Linked DNA regions of Homo sapiens: regions 1, 2, 4 and 5 are each linked to region 3. Evidence: fine-mapped QTL for protein levels in blood plasma. A gene starts in region 3. Each other region holds a variant in brackets. All regions are shown on one strand. Distances are from middle to middle.

Region 1 (5,000 bases), 9.6 kb after region 3:
CAAGCAATTCTCCTGCCTCAGCCTCCTGAGTAGCTGGGATTACAGGTGCCCACCACCACGCCTGGCTAATTTTTGTATTTTTAGTAGAAACAGGGTTTCACTTTGTTGGCCAGGTTGGTCTCAAACTCCTGACCTCAAGTCATCCACTCGCCTCGGCCTCCCAAAGTGCTGGGATTACAGGCGTGAGCCACTGCACCAGGCATGTCTTACCCATGTCTATAGATTTTTAACATATTATGTTCTCATTGTCATTCAGTTATAATAATTTATGATTTTTTCTATGCTTTCTGGTGTACCTAAGACTTAAAAGAAGTATGTAAATTTCTAATTTTATTGTATTATGAACGGTGTTCAAGGCCATACGTAGGGTAGCAACTTTTTTGTAGCCTATTTTGAGTTCAATTTGGAGGAAGGTTTTATGTGTGTTTTGAAAAGATTATACATCCTTTCTTTGAGTAAAGTGTGTGTGTCTGTGTGTGTGTGCGTCTTATGATATCTTTATTCATTTAGTATGAGTTATTGGGTTTGTAAAGTTTATTATTTCTCTTTCATTGTATTGACTTTCTCAAAAGTTTGGCTATTTGTTATTATGTTGAGATTTTCCATCAAATAATCTATCATAGTATGAGTTGCTAATATTGGAGAAGGGAAGAAATTTATATTTATACACACACAGAGAGAGAGATCTACATACATATAAAGTATATAGTGTATATAATATAAACATATAAAACATTGATAATATTAAATACCTAAAGTATATATATAAATATATATTGTTTTTCAAATTTTCTTTTCTTTGTGACATGGACTTACCTTGTCACCCAGGCTGGAGTACAGTGCTGCAATCATTGCTCACTGCATCCTTGAACTCCTGGCCTTAAGCAATCTTCCTGTCCTATGCTCCTGAGTAGCCAGGACTACAAGTACATGACGCTACGGCTGGCTAATTTTTACATTTCTTGTAGAGATAAGGGTCTCATCTCTTGCCCACGCTGATCTTGAACTCCTGGCCTCAAGTGAGTCTTCTACTTTGACTTGCCAAAGCACCAGGATTACAGGCATCAGCCACTGTACCTGGTAGTTTTTCAAATTTCCTATTTAACTTTTTTTCCTTTAACAATTGTTTAAATATATTAAATTGAAGGTTCTCGGTATGATTGTGAATTTAAATTTTTTCTTTGTAATTCTATTAGTTTTGCTTTATATATTTCGGAGTTATGTTGTTAGGTGCATAAAGGTTTATGATTACTATAATAGATCTGATTTTAGATTGTTCCTTTTATCATTTTGAAAAATACTTTTTCCCTTCTTACAGTGGTTTTGTCTTCCATTCTTTTTTTTCTCTCCTTTTAGAAGTCTTACTGAACTGATTTTGGAACATTTAAGTCTACTTATTGAATTTTTCCTTAATCCCTTCCATATCATTATCTCTTTGTGCTACATTCTAGAATAATTTCATGGCCTGTTCTTACTTTTTACTAATTTACTCTTCAGTAGCATCTATTTTGCTAAGTCAGCCTATCTGTTGCAATTTTATATTCCTCATTTTCTATATCTCTAATTTCTACTATTCATAATGCTTTTATTATGCTTTTATTACACTTATATCATCACATGTATTCATGTCAAAGTATTTATTGTCTTATGATATCTTTATTCATTTTGTATGAGTTATTGGGTTTGTAAAGTTTATTATTTCTCTTTCATTGTATTGGCTTTCTCAAAAGTTTGGCTATTTGTTTTTATGTTGAGATTTTCCATCAAATAATGTATGATGGTATGAGTTGCTAATATTGAGGAAGGGAAGAAATTACCACCATAGCATTTAGTGAAAGCAGAGGGTGTGTAAATTATTATTTGTGTGCCAAAGCTTCAAGATCCTCCAGAACATTGTCCCATAAATCTCTTTACCTATGTTCCTATATACACTCTTGCTTCCTGGAGGCAGACACCTCTGTTCCACCTGCTTCCTTTGTAGATTGTGTATGTGTGTGTGTTTGTGTGGAATGCATAGGGCTGCTCCATCTTCTTTACTTACAGTGGTCACTCTGCCTGTTATCCTTTGGCCTTTTCCTGCTCTTTGCTTCTACTTCTCCAAGCATGGACAAGATTGGTGAAGCTGCTATCCTACCTGGCAGTTTACATCTTCAATCTCATTGTACCTACTTCGCAGCTTACACAGATCATTCACAATTTCTTGTAACTGAGAGTTGCTCTCTTGTTTTTCTACTCTGCTACTATTCTTTAAAGATTGAACAAACATATTTGAACCTATATATTTCTCTGGCATCACGTAGGAATGTAAATAAATGTTTTCTTTTTTGCATTTTCTCTTTCTTTTCTATATTTGACATTGAATATACATTTTATTTATAATCAGGAAAAAGTGTATGTGTGTTACAATCTTTAAATATAAATGTTCTTTTATGATTCCATAGTGCAAGTGGTGACCCAGGATGAAAGAGAGCAGCTGTACACACCTGCTTCCTTAAAATGCTCTCTGCAAAATGCCCAGGAAGCCCTCATTGTGACATGGCAGAAAAAGAAAGCTGTAAGCCCAGAAAACATGGTCACCTTCAGCGAGAACCATGGGGTGGTGA[T/C]CCAGCCTGCCTATAAGGACAAGATAAACATTACCCAGCTGGGACTCCAAAACTCAACCATCACCTTCTGGAATATCACCCTGGAGGATGAAGGGTGTTACATGTGTCTCTTCAATACCTTTGGTTTTGGGAAGATCTCAGGAACGGCCTGCCTCACCGTCTATGGTGAGAATCTCTGAGAATCATTGTCTGTGTCTGGAAATACTATTTGCAAGAATGTTTGGAATATAGCCGTAGTGCCCAGTTTTTCAGGATTTTAACCACAGAAAGGGTCATGAGAAGATAGCCTTTCTTGTCTACTATAGCTGTGTTTATGATTATTTGGAGAGTTCATGGGGCTACACTGAGTTCTTTGGCTGGAGCTATCTTTTCTCTGAGGGATCCTGCTGTCAACAGGAGAAATTTGAGGACAATGGTGAGGGCAACAAGTTCTCCATAAGCAGTGATATGATTCAGACCTGGCTTTGCCACTAGCAATCATGCGACCCTAGAAGGGTCCTATCCACTCTCCACTGGAGTTTCATTGTCTGGACAATAAGTGTGAAATAGATCATTTCTAGGGTCACTTACAACTTCAACTTTTTGGATCTAAGGACAGAGCCAGATTGGACTAGCCTTGAGCCAGTTATGATTGTCCTTCTCATTTTGCTTGGGGAGATAGCTCTTTCAGGATTGATAAGGGCACATAGAGCAGAGCCTTTTCATACCTGAAATGATGCCAACTAAAGATATAACTGGGCAAGAGCATTCTTTTAAAATCCAAGAGGCTTAGTTTGATGAAATTCTTCTTAACTGACACACAGCTGAGATGAAAGGTTACGAAGTGAGAATAAGAGATTACTTTGGAGCATGGCACACACGGCAGTAGTTTTAGGGAGTAGAGGACAAACTTATGGTTATTAGGAATATTAAGGTGAGAGTTTACTCATGCCAATAATATTGCCCACAGGGAAGAAAAGGCTTAGTAGATGAGAATGCAAGGGAGATAGGACAATGCCAAAAGAAATTTCTTTTACTTATTTTGCCTATAATGAGTCCTCTCTGTAGAATCTTATGTTGTTTCTTTCTTGATTTCCACTTCTTTCATTCTCTCTTTTTCTGTTTCTCCTCCCTGTCTCCTTCCTTCCTTTCCTCCCTCTCTGCCTTCCTTTCTTCTTTCCTTCCTCCTAATTTTTCTTTTTTTCTTGTGTCATATTTTTCTCATTTCTGTTCCTTTTTATTCTCTTCCTCTTTTCCTCACCTTTCTTTCTCTTAGTCTCCTTCCTTCACTCATAGACTTTTGTATTTTTTTTTCCTGAAAAGCAGATGTCTCTGAGCTTTAAAGCTAGTAATTCTGTTCTCTTCCACACTGACCTTTTCCATCCACACCTTATAACTTTCATGTAAGCCATTCTTTGATACATCATAGGACCTCAACACTCAGTCTGGCCCATCAACCATATTCATGTTTTTTCATTTCTATTTCCCTTCTTCCAGCGCTCACAGACATTAGTAATCTTAGCCAGAGCCACAGTTCCATAGCCCTACTTCCCCAACCCAGTGTCTTCTACCTGCCTCTTGAACCTATAAGCACAGCCCAGGCTTTCAGTTAGCACTGCCATTTAATTATCTTGTGGGCTCCAAAGCCAACCACAGAAAGACAAGTTTACATCTGCTTAGAAAAGAAAAATTCTATATTCCAACAAAAATGAACTCACTAGTCAGGGGATTTTCAAAAGGGTACAGGCTACAGCTGGCCTGAAAATAATTTTCTCATGAGCTAGTTAGTTTTTCTTAACTTAATCAGGTGATTTCCAGTGCTCTTCCAACAGTCATTTCTTAATTTTTATGGTTATTAGCTACGAATTCCAAATTTTGGTTTTGTGTAGCTCTTCCAAAAAGGGATTTTCCAGCTCTCCTCCATGCGTCTAATTCACTGGTCCAGCTCCAAGAAGAAAATGGCTATCTCTAAGCAGTAGCCTTTCTATGGGCTCTCTGTTCCAAAACTGCCCTAGTGCCTCTGATAGGTACAGGACACATGTATGGCAGTGCTGGTTGGTGGTTATTGTCAAGCCATTTAAGAGGAATACCCAGAAGAAGGCAGAGATGCTGCATTGCCCCTGGAAGAGAACAGAATAATTAGGACTGTTTGGGAGAGAAAAGTATCATCTGACTTCTCAATACTCTATGTCCATCTGACAAATTCTGCTACAGACAAATTACAGAAAGGGTCTTTCTCATCACAGGTTTGTACTAGGCCAGTCTCCATCCTGCAGATCAGAAAATTAGACACAAGAGGAACTGGAAAGTCCCCAGTTTGGGTAGGATATGCCATGCTATCTTTCTAGCCTCCATTATCTTTCTATAAGCATATTTCCTTCATCTCTCTGAGGAGACTGCAGGACTCAGACCAGGTGC
Region 2 (5,000 bases), 16 kb after region 3:
GGAGCAGAGATTATAAAGACAAGAAGTTTTAGCAATAATAGCCACGTCTTTTCTCTGTGTAGTTTTGAAGCACTGACTCTTGATGAAGCAGTCAGTAATAAGCCTCCTAAAAAGTATTACTCCTCTTTTTTGGAGAAATTATGAGCAATAAACTGGAAAAGCTTTCTACACCCACCTCTTTACTGCAGTGGCCTTTGGAGTCCCTGAAAACCCAGACTAATCAGAAATTGGATATTTAGGTAAATTTGGTCAAAAAGACTTGCAGTGTTGGATTTGGATATTTGTGAAGAGATCTTCAGATTCAGCCATGGCAAAGGGTATATTTCCTGGAAAAACAAGAACCTAAAAAAGAATGTCTTTTTTTTTTCCAAGAATGCCAGATTTGACTTATATCACTTACAGTGTTTATATACCACTTGTATAATGTTTGTTTATTCTGTGAACATTTACCAAAAAACTTCCATGCTCAAAGCATTATGTCAAGCACTGGACCTATAGAAATCAAACAAATCCCTGTCTGAGGTCTGAGGTGTTCAGTTAAATAATGATGTGACGAATCCCATTATGGAGGTATGGAGAAGATGCTAGAGACTCCCAAATCAAGGAGTTCCTCATTTGCCTTTGCATTGCAACATGACACTGAGGAACTGATATTTAGGCTGAGTTGCATTAAAGACATAGATAAGAAGAAATTTACCAAAAACTTTGAGATGAGTTATCTCTGGGGGTTGAAATCATGAGATTCATGTTTCTTTCTTTGTACTTCTCTGCATTTTCCACAATTTCCTCAATAAACATGTATTCTTTTAATAGACAGTATGGCAAAGAATATGTGCTTTAGAGGCAAACAGACTTTCAACCAAACCTTGGCTATCCCATTTGTTATTCTGATTTTGATCTCAGTTAAATTCTCAAAGCCTCAGTTTTCTTTAAATCTGTTAGAAAATAATAACTCTTGGGATGTTTTGAGGATTAAATGCGATAAGTTTAAAGCTCTTATTACACAGTAGCCAGATAAAACATGTTAGCTATTACTAATATCTAAATATTATTAAAATAATATGAAGTCATACGTATAAACCTACATATGTATGTATTTAAGGATAATTTTAACTAAAAGCTCAACTCTTTTTGCCTCAACAATTTCCTCATGTGATGTCATTTTCCTTTTTCTTTCTTCAATATCTATAGGCTATTGGTTTTCAGTTCCGCTATTGCTAAGCATTGTTTCCCTGGTAATTCTTCTCGTCCTAATCTCAATCTTACTGTACTGGAAACGTCACCGGAATCAGGACCGAGGTGAGTTGTCACAGGGAGTTCAAAAAATGACATAAATTAAATTTGATTTTTAATGACAATTTGTGAGTCATTTGAAGATATAAATAAGGGAATGGCAACAATGTGTTTTGTCTGTTGTTTCCAAAATACAGAAATGTTGATACTGTTTTAAAATGCGTCGGGGCATTTTCTTGCAATTGGACATTAAATTGGACATTTCTGCTTTTTGTTTGCTAAGATGACTTAAAAGCTAATGAAATCAAACAATGGTGATAGAACCAAAGAAAGAAGTCTGGCACCCACACAAGGCCCTTTCCACTCATTAATGAGAAGGACAATCTCTTCTCTTTTTATAGCACTTCACAGGCCATCTGCCCATTTAAGAGGCTGCAATTGTCCAATTATGATCACTCATTAAGTAGCACTTTCTGTGTTATACTCCCACGATGCCTCAAACACTGTCAGCATCATGCAAGTGATCCATACTTACAGTAACTGTGTCATGCCATTCTGCCCTTCTAGACTGTAAATTTCTCTTTATCTTTCACAACTATCACAGCATCTTATATATACCAGGGTCTGAATAAATGTTAATTTACTGAATGAACTGATTGAGGACAGAGAGAATTTTTAAGGTGATTTTTTTTCAATTCCTTTTCTCCTATTGTAAATTCAGTACCTCATAAACGCCAGTCTAAGATATTGTGAGAAATTATAAAACAAGAGACACTATAAAGCAAGAGCAGTGAGCTAGATAGAGAGGAAGAATGAAATGTCTTTGGTTTCTGTAGACAATGCATAATTTATTGAAGTGAATACAAAGCTGCAGTTTATGTTTTGTGTAATGGAAATTTGCTAGGGTGAAGGGGTGATGTGGGAGTTTCCTCCATTTCAGATGACTGAAGGATAGGGGTCAGGAAAGAAAAATAGTTGGCTTTGATAGCTATTTTAGACTTTGATTAAAAATCTCACTCATTTTTTCCTTTCATTTTATGTTTTATAGAAATGTTTCCTTTTAGTTTTATGTTTATATTTTTATGTTTTTGTTCATGTTTCAAGTTTTTGACCACTTTATTTTGCATAATCCTCCAGATTAATTCTTGTGAATTTATAAAACAC[C/A]CAAAAAGCCTTCAGTGTCAGTGGCCCTTTTGCAAAAGTAGGTAAAGGTATTTGTTCTGTCCAGGAGAGAAGATTACAAATCAGTTAATCTTACTACACATAATTATAAGCCTGTGGAACTCATAAGTGCTCCACAGAATAAAATCAAAGACAGAAGTCTGTTTGATTCTACTTTATCCAGAAATTTTTCTTTTCCAATTAGGAAACTGAAGCCCAGAGAGGAAAGCTGACTTCCTTCCATAAGTTTATACAGCTTCTTAAGAGCAGGCTAGGACTAAACCCCGGTGCCCTGACCTCTGCCAAATGTTCTTCCTGTCATTACTGATGCCCCAATGTCTTGACTTGAAAGGAGCTATTGTTATCAGTTGCATTCACTTAATCTGTGCTTACTGTCTATGCCCTTTTCTTTTGGAAAGTGCAAGCAGACAAGTATAAAGTATTTAAATTCATTTTTAAAAGTCCCTCTTGGGCAAAAGTTTTATAATGCAATCTACTCAAGCCTGAGGTAAATTCTACTGGAAAGAGACATGCAAAATAATTACCCTTGTTCATTAAGCAAGTCTTGGATTTTCTGGGAAATATAGTCATTCAATGCCAATATCCGATTCTTGAAGCAAAAAGAATCAGCTTATTTCTCTGCCCAAGTTTTTCCTCACTTATGAAATAAATACCTGAACCTATGTTGACTCCTGTACGCATCAGGATTGCCATTTACTGATGATGTCTTCATGACATATGGCCAATTGCATTAATTCCTCTGAATGACTGGATTTTTGACTCATTTCTTTTCCATTTGTGTTGCTTACAAAAGTTACCTGAGGCTGGGTAATTCATAAAGAAAAGAGGTTTATTTGGTTTCTAAAGGCTATACAAGCACAGTGCCAACATCTGCTTCTGGTGAGGGCCTCAAGCTACCTCCACTAATAGCAGAAGGAAAAGGGGAGCCAGTGTGTGCAGAGATCAGATGGCGAGACAGGAAAATAAAAGAGGGTGCTGCCAGGCTGTTTTACCAGCTCTCATGGGAACTAACAGAGAGAGAACTCACTCACACCAAGGGCATTAATCAATTCCCAAGAGATCTTCCCCCCTTAAACACCTCCCATTAAGCCCCACCTCTAACACCGGGGATCAGATTTCAACATAAGGTTTGCAGGATCAAGTATCCAAACTACAACAACTGATTTAGAAATTTTAACAGCCAGATAATTTGGCATCATACACTTACAGCTAGTAAAACCAAGAGTCAATTATGCTGAAGCTTAAATGCTCAGGGCTAAGAAAATACTGGTTCATTTAGACCAAACTTCAGGTTATACAAAAAGTTGGGACAAAGAAAAGAGAAAGGACAGAAAATCATAGAAGATAGTGACACTTTTTATTTCTACCATTAACAAATTCTGATTGATATTTTGTGAGGAAGGGAAATAGTCCTACACATTTGCCTTCCAGTTGTTTTCATCCTTACTTTTCTTTTCTTTCTCTTTTTCTTTCCATCATCTGAAAACATAAAATTTCCAAATGAGCAGGAAAACACGATTGGTCCAAAATAATACAAAGGTTTTGAACTTGGTGACCTCAAAAATGGTGATGTGAACAGAAACACTAAAGTGAAGAGGTGGAACTGAGAGAGAGAGAGAGAGAGAGAGAGAGTGTTTAGAGTTTGTAGAAAAGCAAAGGAGACAGACGAATAAGTTTTTGAATTTATTGAGTGTGAGCAGACAAAGAATTATCTTCATGTAGCTGTCCAGTAGCCAATAATAAAAATCTGGTAAGTAAGGTAAGTCTGTTAAGTAAGGTCAATTCTGTGTTGGGTAAATGACCAAAACAGAAGTTTATTTTAGGTCATAATCACTACTCATTGCTCACAAATGCCTAAGCAAACTTACAGTTACTGATGTTATTTTTACGTAGAAGTTAGACGACCATTACTTTTCTTGTGATCCTGTATAATGCCAGAGAGCATGACGTTGGTTTTTTCCAACTGCGAAGTAGCACAGGCCATTTTTCTGCACCACTCCTGATAGAATTATCACAGTTACTTCCCAGGAGACTACCACAGTAAGACTAATAAGATTTCAAAGAGCATTCTTTTCTCTTTCATGAATCCAGCACTTTAAAACAGTAAGTGAGAAAGAATTAAAATTTCCTAGGGAAATTTTCCACCATCTCGAAATACTTCTTTCTATTAAAACCCAGTGATTTCATAAAGTTGTGCCTTTCACATATATGACAATGTAGTTAAATTTGGAGTTGAGAATAATCTTTTATTTCTCATTAGTCAACCCACCAACAATTACATGCTTCTCAGAAACAATAAAAGAAACTTCACTTTGAGGCAGATCATCATAGACAATCACCTAATTTTTAGGCAGCTTTATTTTGTTTGGTTTGGTTTGCTTTGCTTTGGTTTGGTTGAGTCAAGGCTGCTTTGGAGAACAATAGAAAATTTAGACAATCATGTAAAATTTATATGCCAAACTTCACTTTTTTTTCAAGTACTAGCTAATCCATGTAGAAATATGTTTTTCATCTGCATGAGCTGTATATTTATCTTGATTTCCTTCTCTTCACAATAACCTAACCTATGAATGGGTTCCTGACAA
Region 3 (5,000 bases):
GGAAAATGGAAAAAAAAAAATGATTTTTTTTTTCCAAACACTTTGTCAGTTTCCCCAGCGGTCACCTTTGAAAAGGGAAAAATGTCTGAAAATAGACAAAGCTGAATATAAACATCATTTAATTCCCCCCACACAGACAGCCTCCGCTCCTGTGAGGGCGTGGGGAAAACGGAGTGGGAGAAGGGGGCTAGCGAGGAGGAAGAGGCGGGAGGTGCGGCAGGGGCACAGGTGACGCTCCTCCCGCCTGCCTAGCAGAGCTCCAGGCGCACATCCGCAGTCAGCCACCTCGCGCGCGCCTCCAGGAGCAAGGATGGAGAGGCTGGTGAGCGGGGCCGGGGCTTGGGAAGGAGGGCGCAGGGCAGGCGATGTTGAGCCGGTGGCCCTGGGGCGGGCGGCGAGTGGAAGGCGCGGAGCTTCGGCTCTTGCCACAATCTGGTCCGGGGACTAGATCAGCGGTGTTGATGGCAGCGCTTTTCTCTAAGCGCTTTCTCTTGCTGAGAAACGGATTTTGCCTTCCAAAGGGTGGTTTACAGGCAGCTGCTGGCGTCCAGATTCTCCATTCCAATTGCCTGAAAAAAAGATGCACCAGGCCGGGGCTCCGGGGGCTCTTGATCCGCGCTGACGAAGCTGGCGCATCCTCCGGGCAGGCTCGGCTCGGCTCACTGGCTCCAGCTCCCAAAACTGGGGAGGCACAGCCTATTTTAAACTGCCCCCAAAAGGGAAAGAGAAATGCTGTATTGGTTCCATATTGGCACCAAAAGCTGCGGCGGAGATACAGATTTCCAGGCTCGCTTTCTCCGGGAGAGCTCCTGCGTCTCCTCTTTGTTATGCAGCCCCTTTCTCCCTCCTAGCCCTTGCCTGGGGGAAGCCATGAAGGATCAGTTAAAGCTGAAGCTACACTTGAGAGAGCTGAAATGCTCTGTGATCATAATGCTTTGAAGGGTTAACCCCGGGTATCTAGAGAAACAGACATTTTGTTTATTCGGAACCAGCTTACAAGACAAAAAACGGAGAAGGTTTTCATATATCCCATTGGTATATGAAATCCAAATACAATGGTATTGGTATAAGAATCCAAATACAGTGAATGCCTCAAGATAATTTTTTCATGTATGGTTTGTTGGCAAGACCACATAGCCAATGATTTCACTGTCTTTCTTAACAAAGGAGAATGGTGGTCTGTGAGCTACGGTCTACTGCAAGCTAGATGCTGTTAATCTTCTTTGTAACTATCCTTCTAAAAATGAATTATTACCTCGTTTTACACATAAACAGGCGGAAAGGCTGATATTTCCAAGTCCTTGTGACTACATGTGGGGTAATGTGGATTTGGACATAGAAACTTGCTGAGGAAGAGGCATGAATAGGGGCAATATAGCTACCAGGTGGGCAGCTGTCTGGTAAGACCCAGGTTTTTGTGAACCCTGGACTGCATGGCAAGGGTTATAAGTGGGCTTCTTTGTTTTCAGGACTGTAGTTCCCCCTATATGATTTGATCGATTAATTTTTTTAGCTACCTAACACGTATTGGCATTTACTATAACCTAGGCTCTATACTAAGTGCTTTAATTGCCTAATTCTCATAATAACTATGTGAGATAAGAGCAACATTTATTTAGTGCTTATTTCTACTGGCAGTATTCTAGGAGCTTTATATACTACTTCATTTAGTCTTTTTAACCATTAGATTGGTACTATTACTTTTCCGGAGTCTCAGAGAGGTAAAATGATTTCTTTTGCTCACAAATCTAGTATTTGTTTTAGCCCCGGTCACCTCCCTGTAAACATATAAATACTGTTGTTTTCAGATTGGTCGTATTTTCAGTTATTCTGCACAGACTCGAGGAAAAAAAAAACCTGTAAAATAAAAATACGTATCTATTTAAGAGTAAGGCTTTCCTTCTGATTTCCTTTGCCTCAATCACTGTGTTTTGTTTCTTAACATTGCTGGCTCCCAGTCCACAATATATGGTTTGGTATGTATCTGCTTTCTCTCTTGTCCTAAAACACAGATTTTCTCTATGAGAGCTTGTCCATTCTGCATTCTTCATCATGGCCTCTGGTAGAGCCTGGATTTCCACGTCAGAGAAGCCTAATGGTTTAAAAAATATCACATAGAATTGGAATGCCAGTATCTGTCTCCACAATTGCCTTAGCTGAAAATAAAACAAAATGTGTTGGGTGGGCACTGGCAATGGAGCCTGAGGAAATATTTGGCCTGATTTTTTCTGACTTTCCTAGATAATTAGATAGGATGGAACAGTCTCAGTAATACTGAGAAAATTATCGAGTTATATATTTTTTTTCACTTCAAAACCAAAGCCTTTGTGAGTATAATACCCAGCAGTGGATGGGCAGGGTGAGCAGATCTTTGTAGGCTGTATGTATTCAGGCAGCTGAACCATCTTGGGTTTCTCAAAGAGCAGTGACTATGTTATTAGTCTTAGACCTATGAAGACAGGAAGAGAAGTCACAAGGAAGGGATAGCATGCTTATGGTATGCTTGGGTATCGAATAATAAAATATATCTGCAAAGAATAATTTGTCCTAATGGCACCTTCAGATGATATAATCTTGAATTCTCTGTAGCCTTAGAGATGTAAGGAAAAAGCAACTTACATCACAAAGATCAGTATTACTGTGTACTATGATGCCACTGCATGGGGTCCAGGATGAGAGTCTAAGTGATTGGTTCTCTCTAGCTGAAGACAAGAAGACACTCAGGTATGTGGCAGCACTTGGGATAGGCCACAGGGCGGCGAGACATCATTCCTTCCAGGACATCTATCCTGAAAGATCCATCAGGAATACTGTGATGGAGATAGTGATGGAGACTCCTTGTCTCTGGCAGTTAGAGTGAATGCTGAAGAAGAGCCCTTTTCCAGCAGGCCAGTCTCTAACATGATCTTGGGTCTTCACCCAGACCATGACAGCTCTGGTGCTCAACACACACAACCACCTCCAGGGTACAAGTTGGCCCCAAGAGAGCTGAGACAATATTGGCTCTAATTTTTATCATCTCATTGATCTCAAACCACAGACTCTGACCAGGACAATTGGGGGCCCTCTCCTTACAGCTACACTCCTAGGAAAGACCACCATCAATGATTACCAGGTAATTTTCTACCCCTACCTATGAAGGGACTTGGTTAGTAACTTCTCTTGCTAGAGGAAAAATGAAGCTTATTATATAAGATTAATGTTTGTGAAACACCTGTTATTTGGAATTGGTTTGGTACTTCCTCTTGAAATTTCCCTCATTAAGTTTAGGTCGTGGCTGTTTCATAAGGAAAGAAAAGGGCATGTATTGACTGGAATTAAAATTAACAAATCCATTGAGTAGGAGGATATTAAAATTGAGTGGCTCCCATTGGACAGGAAAAGGAAGAGAAATCCTTGTGGCAGGTAAAGGAGGAGAGATTTAGATCCTTGAGAACTCCATTCCCGACCCGCTGCTCCTGAGCCCACAGGAAGAAGGCCATCACAAGACAATAAAAATCCCAGAGAAATTGAAAGGCAAACAGAAAGACCCAGCTTGGAGTGATAAGGAAAATGAATTCCAGCAGGGAAGTCATTGTATCTAAAAGGAATGGCAAAAATAGGGCTTAGTTAAGGCAAACACCGAGAATGAGGGGATGGGATTCCCACAGGTAGAACACCACCCTTTAGCAATGATCCTGACCCTAAAGCAAGGTCATTTAAGTGATTATGGGCCAATATTCTAGAAATAAGCTTCAAATTATAGTAGCAACAGATGGGGCTAAACAGGAGCCGATAAGAACATACAAACAACTTCAGAAAGGGATGCCCGTGATGGGTTCATTAAGGAAAAAGTGGTCAGGACATCCCGCTAAAGCAACAGGATTCAGTGGATATTGAGGTTCTTGGGGGGCAATGAGACAGGCACCAAGAGACCACTACTTTATGGAAGACTATGATCATACTGCTAAATACCATAAAAGAATAGACAGAGCCAAATAAGAGACTGTTTCTAATGAAACAAGCAGACAATGTCCCAACCTCAGGAATTTAACTCAGTCTGAAAAAGAAGAGTAGTTTCAAAACTGTCAAGCCTGCTTTAGTGCTATAATTTTTTTCACTGACAAGAGAGAATGAAAGACTGATAGCTGGGGGAGTGGCGGGGGGTGAGGGGTGTTGACAGGTAGTAAGCATGCTGGAAACAGTGTCTCAAGGTGTGGGGTATATGGTGGGTATATTTGGGAAGTAGTCATTTTCTCTCAAACTGGAAAGCAGATGGGTGTGTTCAGACAAGATCTGGAAGCTGTGGCATGGCAGACAAAGGGAGATGGGACCCCTTTGGCACTGGAGGAAGAGGCTTGAATCTTCTTGGAGCACTAAAAGTTCCAAAAGACCTAAGCAGAAAATGCTTCCGAAGAGGAGGATCTGTATGGCAAGATGACTGTAATCAGGCTCATAAAAGTAAGACCTTACATAAATACAAGTGAGGGGGAAGACATTTCATGTAGGAGGAATGGCTCAAGCAAAAATACCAAGGCGGGAAATTGCGTGGTGCGTTTAGAAGTAGAAAAGGCTAGCTGGCAGGGAGGGGATACATAGGAAGGCAATGGAAATGAATTTGCAAGAATGAAAACAGGCTAAGAACTTTGAACAATTTTCTCTAGATAGTTAGGGGCTATAGAAGAAGATGGCATCTTGTACAAAGAGGAATTTAAGGAAAATTAATCTGTCAATAGTGTGTAAATACATAAGCTGGATAGTAAACTTAACTAAGTTAGGGACTATATCTGCCTTATGCACCATTGTCTCCAAAGTACCTACCATAGTGCCTGGCATGAAGTCAGACTCAATAGAGATGATTAATAATAGAATAAATGAAAGAAGTATAGTTGTCCCTTGGGACCCATGGGGGCTTTGTTCCAAGACCCTCACAGATACCAGTTGGTGGATGGTGCAAGTCCCTTATATGAAATGCTGTAATATTTGCATATAACCTATGCATATCCTCCCATATATATAAA
Region 4 (5,214 bases), 39 kb after region 3:
AGAACTGCTTCTATCCTGAGATAGACTCAGGAGGTAAGAACTACTGGCTTAATCACATGGTTGAGCATTCATTCCAACTAATATTTATTGAGCATCAATTATGAGAAAGGTATTCTGCTTGGCTCTATTGATATAAAATAAATAAGACAAGATGCTTTCTCTAGAGATGCTGTGGGAAGTCGTCATATAAACTGTGACAATGTTGGACTACAGGATGACAAATATTCCAGGCAGAGAGATCAGCATATGCAGAGGCAGGAGGTGTGGAACACCAAGTGAGGCTAAGGAAGGGAAGCATTAGGCTGGACGTTAGGGTGGGCAGCAGAGAAAGGAACATGCAATGTACTGGAAACATAGGCTGGGTTCACACCACAGAAGGCTGTTCCAATATAGGAAGTGTGCCTTTGCATTTTGACCCTGACACTAAAAGGATGTGCGATCTAATGTTAGATGAATTCAATTGAATTGGTGAATATTTCCCTCAGTCAGATATCTGACTCCGTAGACTCAGGTTTATTCTAAAGACAGAAATTTGATATATTTCATTCTGGTCAATGGCAGGCTATATCAAAGGAATAAACAAGGAAATTTCTTGGTTTTGCCATTGTTTCATAGCACAAAGGGGACAGAGGAATTGGGTGATATATTCAGTTTCTGTAATTTTTGTTTTATTTTATTTTTTGTTTATTTTATTTTTTGTTATATATTTATTTATTTTTATTTTATTATATTTTATACTCAGGGGTACATATGCATGTTTGATACACAGATATATTATGTACTATTGGGGATTGGACTTCTAGTGTACCCACTATCCAAATAGTGGATTTCCTGTTATTTTTTTCCACATTGAATCGTATATGGGCCCCCATCAGATAATAGTAAAATCATTGAGCTAAGAGGCCTCAGAACTATCATGTCTGACCCCTATATTTTACAGATGAAGAAATACATTTTACTCAAGATTACACACACAGATAATGATGCAACTTTGGTTTTGGCTGAAAGGTCTTCATGGGTGGTTTCATTCAGAGCTGTCAGGAAAGGAAGCAAAAATTCTGAAAGAGTATGAGGTGGAATATTGAATTTCATTGCTTCATAAATCAGTCTAGATTGTTGTGTTCCTTATTCAGCTGTTCATGGGAATTCCCACTGAGGCAGTTGAAATAGTTGAGAGACAGGTGACTATGCAACAGGACTACATACACCGAAAGAATGGTCAGTTGCCCATACAACTTAATTTAATCCTGAGGACCAGTATCTTCAGGCCTTTCTCAAGCCTAGGTTTATATATACTAATTCTGTTTGATGATATACTGTCATTGGGAACGCCCGACTTTATGCCTGGGTGGATCAATCACACAGTTCATAATTATGGGCAAAAAGTAACTTGGTATCCCAATGATCAAGGACTTCCAGGGCTCAATTGTAAGCCAAAAGCTGTTTCTCAAAAGGAAATAATTTCGTTTTTCTGAAAATGTGTATGGCTTCACTCCAAAACCGAGCTTTGAACTGTAATTCTTTTTTTCTTTTCTTTTCTTTCTTTTTTTTTTTTTTTGATGGAGTCTTGCTCTGTTTCCCAGGCTGGAGTGTAGTGGCACAATCTTGGCTCACCTCAACCTCCACCTCCCGGGTTCAAGCAATTCTCCTACCTCAGCCTCCCAAGTAACTGGGATTACGGGTGCCCACCAACACACCCAGGTAATTTTTTTTTTTTTTTTGGTAGAGACAGGGTTTCACCATGTTGGCCAGGCTGGTCTCAAACTCTTGACCTCAGGTGATCCGCCCACCTCGGCCTCCCAAAGTGCTGGGAATACAGGCGTGAGCCACCACACCAGCCAAATTGTAATTCTTCTGTTGTGACTTGCCCCAGGCTCCTTGCAGCATCCTATTTGACAGTTTGAGCACAATCACATCTACCCATGCACCCTCTTTCATGGGATCCATAGATCGTCTCCCTGTCTCTGCTCTGTTCCTTCTCTCTCCCCACACGTGTGCTGATTCACTTTACCCAAAAGCTTGAGATTTTAGCATTTTGTAAAATAAGAATAAGTTACTATTCTTTTTCCCTCGCCACATCCTTTTCCTGAGGCAGTGAGCAAAAAGACCCCACCTGTTATAACGCACAAAAGGGAAATGGTAATGAATAGGAAGTAAAAATAGACGCTAACATTGTAATATTATTTTGGCACATGCCTGGAACATTGTAGAGCTTCAGTAACATCAGCCATTTTTTCCTTAATATGAACAAGAGGAAATCTAACAGCTTCTTCAACCATTGAAAAAGCAGTTCTATGAAAGAGAAAATAGATGTGTTCATTGGAGGTGGTAGTGGGTTGAATTGTATCCCCCCAAATATAGGTCTACATCCTAATCCCCAGAACCTATGAATATGATATTATTTCATAAGTGAGTCTGTGCAGATATAATTTAAGAGTCTAGACATGAGATCATTCTGGATTATCTGGGCATGCCCTAAATCCAGTAAAAAGTGTCCTTATACGAGACATACAGAGGACAGGAGAAGGCAATGTGACCACAGAAGCAAAAATTAGAGTGATGTGGCCACACGCTGAGGAACATCTGGAGCCATCAAAAGCTGGAGGAGGTAAGAACAGACTGCCCCTAGAGCCTTTGGATGGAATGTAGTTCTGCAAACACCTTGCTTTTAGAACTGTGAGAGAATAAATTTCTATCATTTTCAGCCACCATATTTGTGGTCATTTGTTATGGCAGCCATAGGAAACTAACACAAAGATCCAGAGAGCAGGACCAGAACCAAAACAGAAAAAGTGAAAGATAAACTTTCCTATTATTGAATCTGCTCAAGAGTGTGAGAGACTGAGTTATGAAATAGTTGGCTTCAGTAATTGGAGTTGGGTTTCAGTGGTTCAATGGTCAAAAGGGAGAGAGGCTGGTGACAGGGCGAGATCTTATCTCTTAAAAAAAGGGAGGAAGAGAGTTTATTGGGTGGAACTGGAAATTTTTATAAACTCATGCTCTTATTTATTCAGATTTACATATTCCCGACCATAGTTTTTTGGAAGC[G/A]CATCTCAGGAATTCCCAGATTTTACTCATGCTGTTGCCCATAACCTACGGTGTGGTTAAGAATAATACAATTGGTCCAAACAGGAAGATTAGTTTCCAGGGAAGGAATAAGTCACTGTTGATTATGCCAGGAAAATAGGCTGGAATCATCAGGCAGAGCTTCGCATCTGTACAGCTATCTCCCTGCAGCTGATTTATCTAATGCTTTCTATGATTGCAGACGAACAGACTTTCCGATGGACAAATAAAGAAGCTGCCTTATTTATATTAATATAACCTCTTTCTTTGAACCTCTAGCCTGCCTGGGACACAAAATCACATAGTTTCAAATGACATTAAAGTTAGCTAAGCAATTTTTCTTGCCATTGAGAGAGTAGAAAATTAATACTTTGAATCCAGTTAGGTTACCCTGTTAGATGACTGTTTGGAATCCACAGGTAGGAGTTCTTAACCTGGGCTCAGGGGCATACATAAGGGGACAACTCCACGGTCCCCTTGAAATTCTAAGCAATTTTTTGCTTTCTAGAAGGACTCTAGTGACCTCCATATCACTAAGTTTAATGATTTTTCTTTACCTCTTCTGTACATGTCTCACATTAGACTCTTTCTTGAAATTCATTGTCATCTGTAATATGATGTGCCCTTGATTTTCTCATCTTTCCAGCCCAACCTCCTGTACTTAATTTTTAAATTTTGCAATTCTCGAAAACTTGGATAGAGGCTGTCTTGTTTGCTCATAGTGTACTCTTTCCCTGTGTGATCTCATCCATGCCATGTCTTCAGTTATGATCTATACACTCACAAGTCCAAAATTACTACTTCTAACTCCTTGGAGCTCAGATATATGTATCCAGCTGTCTACAAAACATCTCCACTGGCTGACTTACAGGCAACTCAAACTGAACAGGTCCAAAGCTGAACTCCTGGTCTTTCCCAGTCCCATAACTGGTCCTCCTCCAGTTTTCTCTATTACAGTGAAACAGGAGAGTTCCCTGATCCCCCTCGAAGGACATATGATGGGTGTGGCTCGCCTGTTCAGTCACCAGCACTCCTCAAACCCCTTAGGGGAGGGGGAGCACACAGACAGGCAGGTGAAGGAGCCTAAGTGGAGTGTGTTACAATGTGCCCTTTTAGCCTTGCCATCCACGAATGGCTTGGGTGTTAATCAGCTCAGTGGACTCTCTGCCTTTCTGCAAGGGCAGAGGGGCAGTTCAACAGCTTTCTGTGTCCTGAGCTCTTGCCCAGCATCTTGGAAAAATCAGGTCACACACGGGCTTGAAGGATGAATGAGAGGTTTTATTGAGTGGTAGAGGTGGCTCTCAGTGGGATGGATGGGGAACAAGAAGCAGGGAATGGAGTGGGAAGAAGATCTTCCCTGGATTTTGGCCATCTTGTGGCTGAACCCTTCTCTGACCACCCCAGCTGGAAATCTCTCAGTGTTCAGACATTCCTCTTCTTTTCTCTTTCTCTATTGCACCATTTTGCAATCCATCTGCTTGTCTCCTCATCTTCTCATCTGCTTCTGGAGCCTGGGGCTTATATGAATACAGGATAGAGGGCATGGTGGGCCAAAAGGCAACTTCTTCACATGAAAACAGAAATGCCTGTCCCCATTTAGGACCACAGGACTTCAGGCTTGAGATAGGGGCCTTTGCCAGGGAACCACCCTCTTCTACCTAGTGTTTCCCTGTTTCCTGTCCATATCAACAGGGGATGGTGTCATCATCCATTTGGGCACAGGGTTCACTAGAGGGACAGGACTAATAGGATAGATGTATATATGAAGGGGAGTTTATTAACAAGTATTGACTCATGCGATCACAAGTTGAAGTCCCACAGTAGGCTGTCTGCAAGCTGAGGAGCAGGGAAGTCAGTCCAAGTCCAAAAACCTCAAAAGTAGGGAAGCTGACAGTGCAGCCTTCAGTCTGTGGCCAAAGGCCCAAGAGCCCTTGACAAACCACCGGTATAAGTCTCACAGTCCAAAAGCTTTAGAACTTGGTGTCTGATATTCAAGGGCAGGAAGCATCCAGCACGGGAGAAAGATAAAGACCGGAAGACTCAGCAAGTCGGCTCCTCCCACCTTCTTCTGCCTGCTTTATTCTAGTCTTTCTGGCAGCTGATTAGATTGCACCCACTCAGATTGAGGGTGGTCTGCCTCTCTCAGCC
Region 5 (5,214 bases), 920 kb before region 3:
TGGATGTATACAACCCTCCTAGATTAAGTCAAGAAGAAATAGAAACTCTGAACGGACCAATAACAAGCAGTGAAATTAAAATGGTAATTAAAAACTTAACAAAAAAAAAAAAAAAAAAAAAAAAAAGGTCCAGGACCAGACAGAATCACAGTTGAATTCTATCAGACATTCAAAGAAAAATTGCTACTAATCCTATTGACACTATTTCAAAAGAAAGAGAAAGAAGGAATTCTCCTCAAATTATTCTATAAAGCCAGTATCACCCTAATACCAAAATGAGGAAAGGATATTAAAAAAAACTACAGACCAATATCCCTGATGAGTATAGGTACAAAAATTCTCAACAAAATACTACCTAACCAAATCCAACAGCATATCACAAAGACAATCCATGATAATCAAATGGGTTTCATATCAGGTATGCAGGGATGGTTTAACATACACAAGTCAATAAATGTGATATACCACATAAAAAGAATTAAAAACAAAAATCACATAGTCATCTCAATAAATGCAGAAAAGCGTTCAACAAAATCCAGCATCCTTTTATGATTAAAACCCTCAGCAAAATCAGCATAGAAGGGACATACCTTAATGTAATAAAGCCATCTATGACACACCCACAGCCAACATTATACTGAATGGGAAAAAAATGAAAGTATTTCCCCTGAGAACTGGAACAAGACAAGGATGCCCACTTTAACCACATCTATTCAACATAGTACTGGAAGTCCTAGCCAGAGCAATCTTACAAGAGAAAGAAATAAGGGGTATCCAAATTGGTGAAGAGAAAGCTGAACTGTCACTCTTTGCTGATGATGTAATTGTATACCTAGAAAACTCTAAAGAGTCATACAAAAAGCTCCTAGAACTGACAAAAAATTCAACAGTGTTTTAGAATACAAAATTAATGTATACAAGTCAGCAACACTGCTATACACCGACAGCAACCAAGCTCAGAATCAATTCAAGAACTCAACCTTTCTTACAATAGCTGCAAAAAATAATATACTTAGAAATATATCTAACCAAGGAGGTGAAAGACCTGTACAAGGAAAACTACAAAACACTGCTCAAAGAACTTATATACAACACAATTAGAAACACATCCATGCTCATGGATGGACAGAATCAGTATTGTGAAAATGACCATACTGTCAAAAGCAGTCTACAAATTCAATGCAATTCTCATCAAAACACCACCATCGTTCTTCAGAGAACTAGAGAAAAACAATCCTAAAATTCATATGGAACAAAAAAAGAGTGCACATAGCAAAACAAGACTAAGAAAAAAGAACAAATCTGGAGGCATCACACTACCCAACTTTAAACTATAAGACCATAGTCACCAAAACAGCAATGTACTGGTATAAAAATAGGCAATAGACCAATGCAACAGAATAGGGAATCCAGAAATAAACCCAAATACAATCAGCTGATCTTCAGCAAAGCAAGCAAAAACAGAAAGTGGGGATAGGACACCCTAATCAACAAATGGTGCTGGGATAATTGGCAAGCCACATGTAGAGAATGAAACTAGATCCTTGTCTCTTACCTTATACAAAAATCAACTCAATATGGATCAAGGACCTAAATCAAAGCATGAAACCATAACAATTCTAGAAGATAACATTGGAAAAACCCTTCTAGACACTGGCTTAGGCAAAAACTTCATGACCAAGAACCCAAAAGCAAATGCAACAAAAACGAATATAAATAGATGGGACTTAATTAAACTAGAAAGCTTCTACACAGCAAAAGGAACAGTCAGCAGAGTAAACAGAAAAACCAGAGTGGGAGAAAATCTTCACAATCTATACATCTGACAAAGAACTAATATCCAGAATCTACAATGAACTCAAACAAATTAGCAAGAAAAAAATCAAACAATTCTATCAAAAAGTGGGCTAAGGACATGAATAGACAATTCCCAAAATAAGATATACAAATGGTCAACAAACATATAAAAAAATGCTCAGCATCACTAATTATCACGGAAATGCAAATCAAAACCACAATGCAATACCACCTCACTCCTGCAAGAATGGCCATATTCAAAAAATAATAGATGTTGGCATGGATGTGGTAAAAAGGGAACAGTTTTACACTGCTGGTGGGAATGTAAACTACTACAACCACTATGGATAACAATGTGGAGATTCCTTAAAGAACTAAATGTGCATCTACCATTTGATTCAGCAATCCCATTGCTGGGTATCTAACCAGAGGAAAACAGGTCATTATATGAAAAATATACTTGCACACACATGTTTATAGCAGCACAATTTGCAATTGCAAAAATGTGGAACCAACCCAAATGCCCATCAATCAAGTGGATAAAGAAAATGTGGCATATATATACCATGGAATACTACTCAGTCACAAAGGAATGATATAATGGCATTTGCAGCAACCTGGATGGAATTGGAGACCATTATTCTAAGTGAAGTAACTCAGGAATGGAAAACCAAACATTGTTTGTTCTCACTGATATGTGGGAGCTAAGCTATGTGGACTCAAAGGCATAAGAATCATACAATAGACTCTGGGGACTCAAGGGAAGGGGTATGAGGGGTGTGAGGGATAAAAGATTACACATTGGGTACAGTGTACACTGCTTAGGTGATGGGTGCACCAAAATCTCAGAAATCACCACTGAAGAACTTATTAATGCAATCAAACACCACCTGTTCCCCCAAAACCTATTGAGATAAATAAACAAATAAAAATAAAGGTTTTTACTCTGGCTGAGGGGAACATAAATTATTCCCAGTCATGTGTGAGCTCCAGGGATTACTTATACTCAGCCTTTTGAGTAGATTTTTCTCCGTCATGGGTAGTATCTTCATAAAAATATGCTGCTTAATACTCAGGACCCTTGGCATATCCTCAGAACTCTTTCTCTATGCAGATCTCTCCTCTCAGGTATTTTAATTTTTAACTCTAGCCATGTTGACTCATCCAGTGTATTAGTCCATTCTCATACTTCTGTGAAGAAATACCCAAGACTGGGTAATTTGTAACCAAGGAAGCTTTAATTGACTCACATTTGCACATGGCTGGGGAGGCCTC[A/T]GGAAACTTACAATCATGACAGAAGAGGAAGCAGGCATCTTCATCACAAGGTGGCAGGAGAGAGAGTGAGCGCGCAGGAACAACTGTCAAACACGTATAAAACCATCAGATCTTGTGAGAACTCCCTCATTATCATGAGAACAGCATGGAGAAATTGCCCTCATGATCCAATCACCTCCCACCAGGTCCCTCCCTTGACACTTGGGGATTATAATTCAGATTACAATTCAAAATGAGATTTGGGTGGGGACACAGAGCCAAACCATATCACCTAGACACCAATCTTCATCTTCTCCACTCAATGAGTTTGCTGGTTTCTGTGTGGCTTCCCTCTCTCCCTGTGCTTTAGTCCAGAAACTCTCTCCAGGAAGTAAGCTAGTGAAGTTATATGGCTCACCTATTTGTCCTTCTTCTCTCAGTGATCATTGCTCTGTGCCACCTGATGTTTGTTAACAGATGTTTCATGTATTTTGTCTATGTTTTTAGTTGGTTTGATGAGAGAATAAATCTAGCCACTATTACTCAATTTTGCCTAGAAATAAGAATCCCAATATTCTCTGTACTCTCAGATGTTACTTTTCACACAATTTAACACATTTTAATATGCATCTGACTATGACACAATTTTTAGTTTAATATCAGTTCCAAAATATAACCTAAGTTACCTAATATTCTTAGTCTAAATGGCCTCGTTTTTGTAAGTGATATGGTTGGACCACATCAGTGGCATTCACCTTTCTATCTCCTCCAATAGATCTGAGTAATATTACAGAGATTCTCTCTGGGGGGATGATTCTCAGTATTTGGGGAGTGGATTGGTGTTCACTATCTTCATGAAATATAATAAAGGGGATTGTGTACTTTGGGAATATAAAGAAGTCTTTGGTGGGATGCATCTATTTCCTCAACTGACACTCTGAAGTAGATGATTCAATTCTAGGAACATCTATTGAACAACTTGAGTATTATATGAAACCATGTTCAGTTCCGTGAAAAGGGGAAATATTACTAAGACTGGTTTCATATCCCTAAATATTATATAATAAATAGTGGTAACCTCTAAAGTTCTGTTACTAAAAATGTCTGAAAATTATTATGAGAGTTGGGAAAATATATAATTGATATCAGAATACTAGAACTCATTGCATTAACAAAATTTGTTTCTAGTAGTCCAGATTTTTCAGATCACAAAAATGCAGAGGTACATGATGTGGTAGTCTGCATTGCCAACTAACATCTGGAAGAGTTCTTTAGGTCTCTGGTAATGGCCAAATAATCTAATCGATAGAAAACGATACATCATTTTGTATTTTTATGTTTTACAAATGTATTTTCAAATCTCAAACTCTCTAAGTCTCAAACTCCTCTAAATCTAAATTATAAATCTCAAACTCCTCTAAATATGTTAAAAAGATCCGTATACTTGTGAAAATTCACAGCCAATGGTATTTATCTATAATTCATTGACTCAAACACAAGAGCTAATTTGTCTGTATTATGCTTTAGAGACAGTTAATCACTGACACTATTTTTTTGCAATAAACTAGAATAGCTCAGTAATTTTCCCACTTAGTAGACTTTTTATTTCTTACCTACGTATCTAATATAATTAATGCATTTATGGATTAACTGTCTCAGACTGTGAAACAGCTGGTGCAGAAAACCTACTAATCACTAATTACTGTAGATTCCTTCTGGAAAATAACTTTCAATGTGCAGACCCAGGGGTTTCTAATCTAGTTAAAGGATTTCCAAGTGGGATGTGCAGCACTTCAGCCAATCTGTACAAACTAATTGCTATGTAGCTATGTAGCCTGAAATGTAATCAAAATCATATGTGCATAAACCAGAGAGTTGCATATTTAAAAACATTTTCTGGATGTGAATAAAAAGAATTGTTCAAGTGTGAGCTGGCACCAGACCAGCTTTGCAGTAAATCCCAAAATTCTGTTGCCATTTTCTTCCTTTCTCTGACTTTACTAAGAAAGGGTACAGTTTTCCCTATATCTTGATTCATGTTTTATATTTTCCAATTGTTATTTATAAGTGATACTTCTTACCTAATATAAAAGAAACACATTTTAGAATCTCAGGAGAAATAAGGGCAATTTTGTGCTGTGATGATGGGTCAAATAAAGTTGT

Which allele goes with the higher level. Positions count from the first base shown, and alleles are read on the strand shown. Strength reflects both the effect of a copy and how common the allele is. Not every link is listed here.
For the plasma level of the protein whose gene starts at base 254 in region 3, C is the low allele of the variant in region 1 and T is the other (weak association).
For the plasma level of the protein whose gene starts at base 254 in region 3, C is the low allele of the variant in region 2 and A is the other (moderate association).
In carriers of allele A in region 5, the plasma level of the protein whose gene starts at base 254 in region 3 tends to be higher than with T alone (weak association).

What was found. PIP is the posterior inclusion probability: the model's chance that the variant is causal. Protein levels are from antibody-based Olink assays in UK Biobank. Linkage for the fine-mapping came from a reference panel and not from the study's own genotypes, which makes the PIPs less certain.
Region 1: its variant is fine-mapped to the plasma level of the CD200 protein (UK Biobank, PIP above 0.99). The variant lies in the coding sequence of CD200. If it changes the protein, the assay may bind it differently, which can mimic a change of level.
Region 2: its variant is fine-mapped to the plasma level of the CD200 protein (UK Biobank, PIP above 0.99).
Region 4: its variant is fine-mapped to the plasma level of the CD200 protein (UK Biobank, PIP above 0.99).
Region 5: its variant is fine-mapped to the plasma level of the CD200 protein (UK Biobank, PIP 0.96).

Annotation. Positions count from the first base shown.
Region 1 is chr3:112,342,521-112,347,520 of GRCh38, forward strand. CD200 (CD200 molecule) reads left to right here. Exons shown (of 6, transcript NM_005944.7): 3 at 2,442-2,768. Among named protein-coding and RNA genes, the nearest start is that of CD200, 12 kb to the left of the region's middle. The variant T/C (reference allele first, on the strand shown) is at 2,604.
Region 2 is chr3:112,348,521-112,353,520 of GRCh38, forward strand. CD200 (CD200 molecule) reads left to right here. Exons shown (of 6, transcript NM_005944.7): 5 at 1,192-1,299. Among named protein-coding and RNA genes, the nearest start is that of CD200, 18 kb to the left of the region's middle. The variant C/A (reference allele first, on the strand shown) is at 2,398.
Region 3 is chr3:112,332,903-112,337,902 of GRCh38, forward strand. CD200 (CD200 molecule) reads left to right here and starts at 254. Exons shown (of 6, transcript NM_005944.7): 1 at 254-322. The coding sequence starts at 311. RefSeq lists enhancers at 1-878, 879-1,835, 2,332-3,091.
Region 4 is chr3:112,371,518-112,376,731 of GRCh38, forward strand. LOC105374041 (a long non-coding RNA gene) reads right to left here. Exons shown (of 4, transcript XR_924334.3): 4 at 4,324-4,583. Among named protein-coding and RNA genes, the nearest start is that of CD200, 41 kb to the left of the region's middle. The variant G/A (reference allele first, on the strand shown) is at 3,049.
Region 5 is chr3:111,409,858-111,415,071 of GRCh38, forward strand. All of the region lies in intron 2 of LOC105374039 (a long non-coding RNA gene), which reads left to right. Among named protein-coding and RNA genes, the nearest start is that of CD96, 130 kb to the right of the region's middle. The variant A/T (reference allele first, on the strand shown) is at 3,073.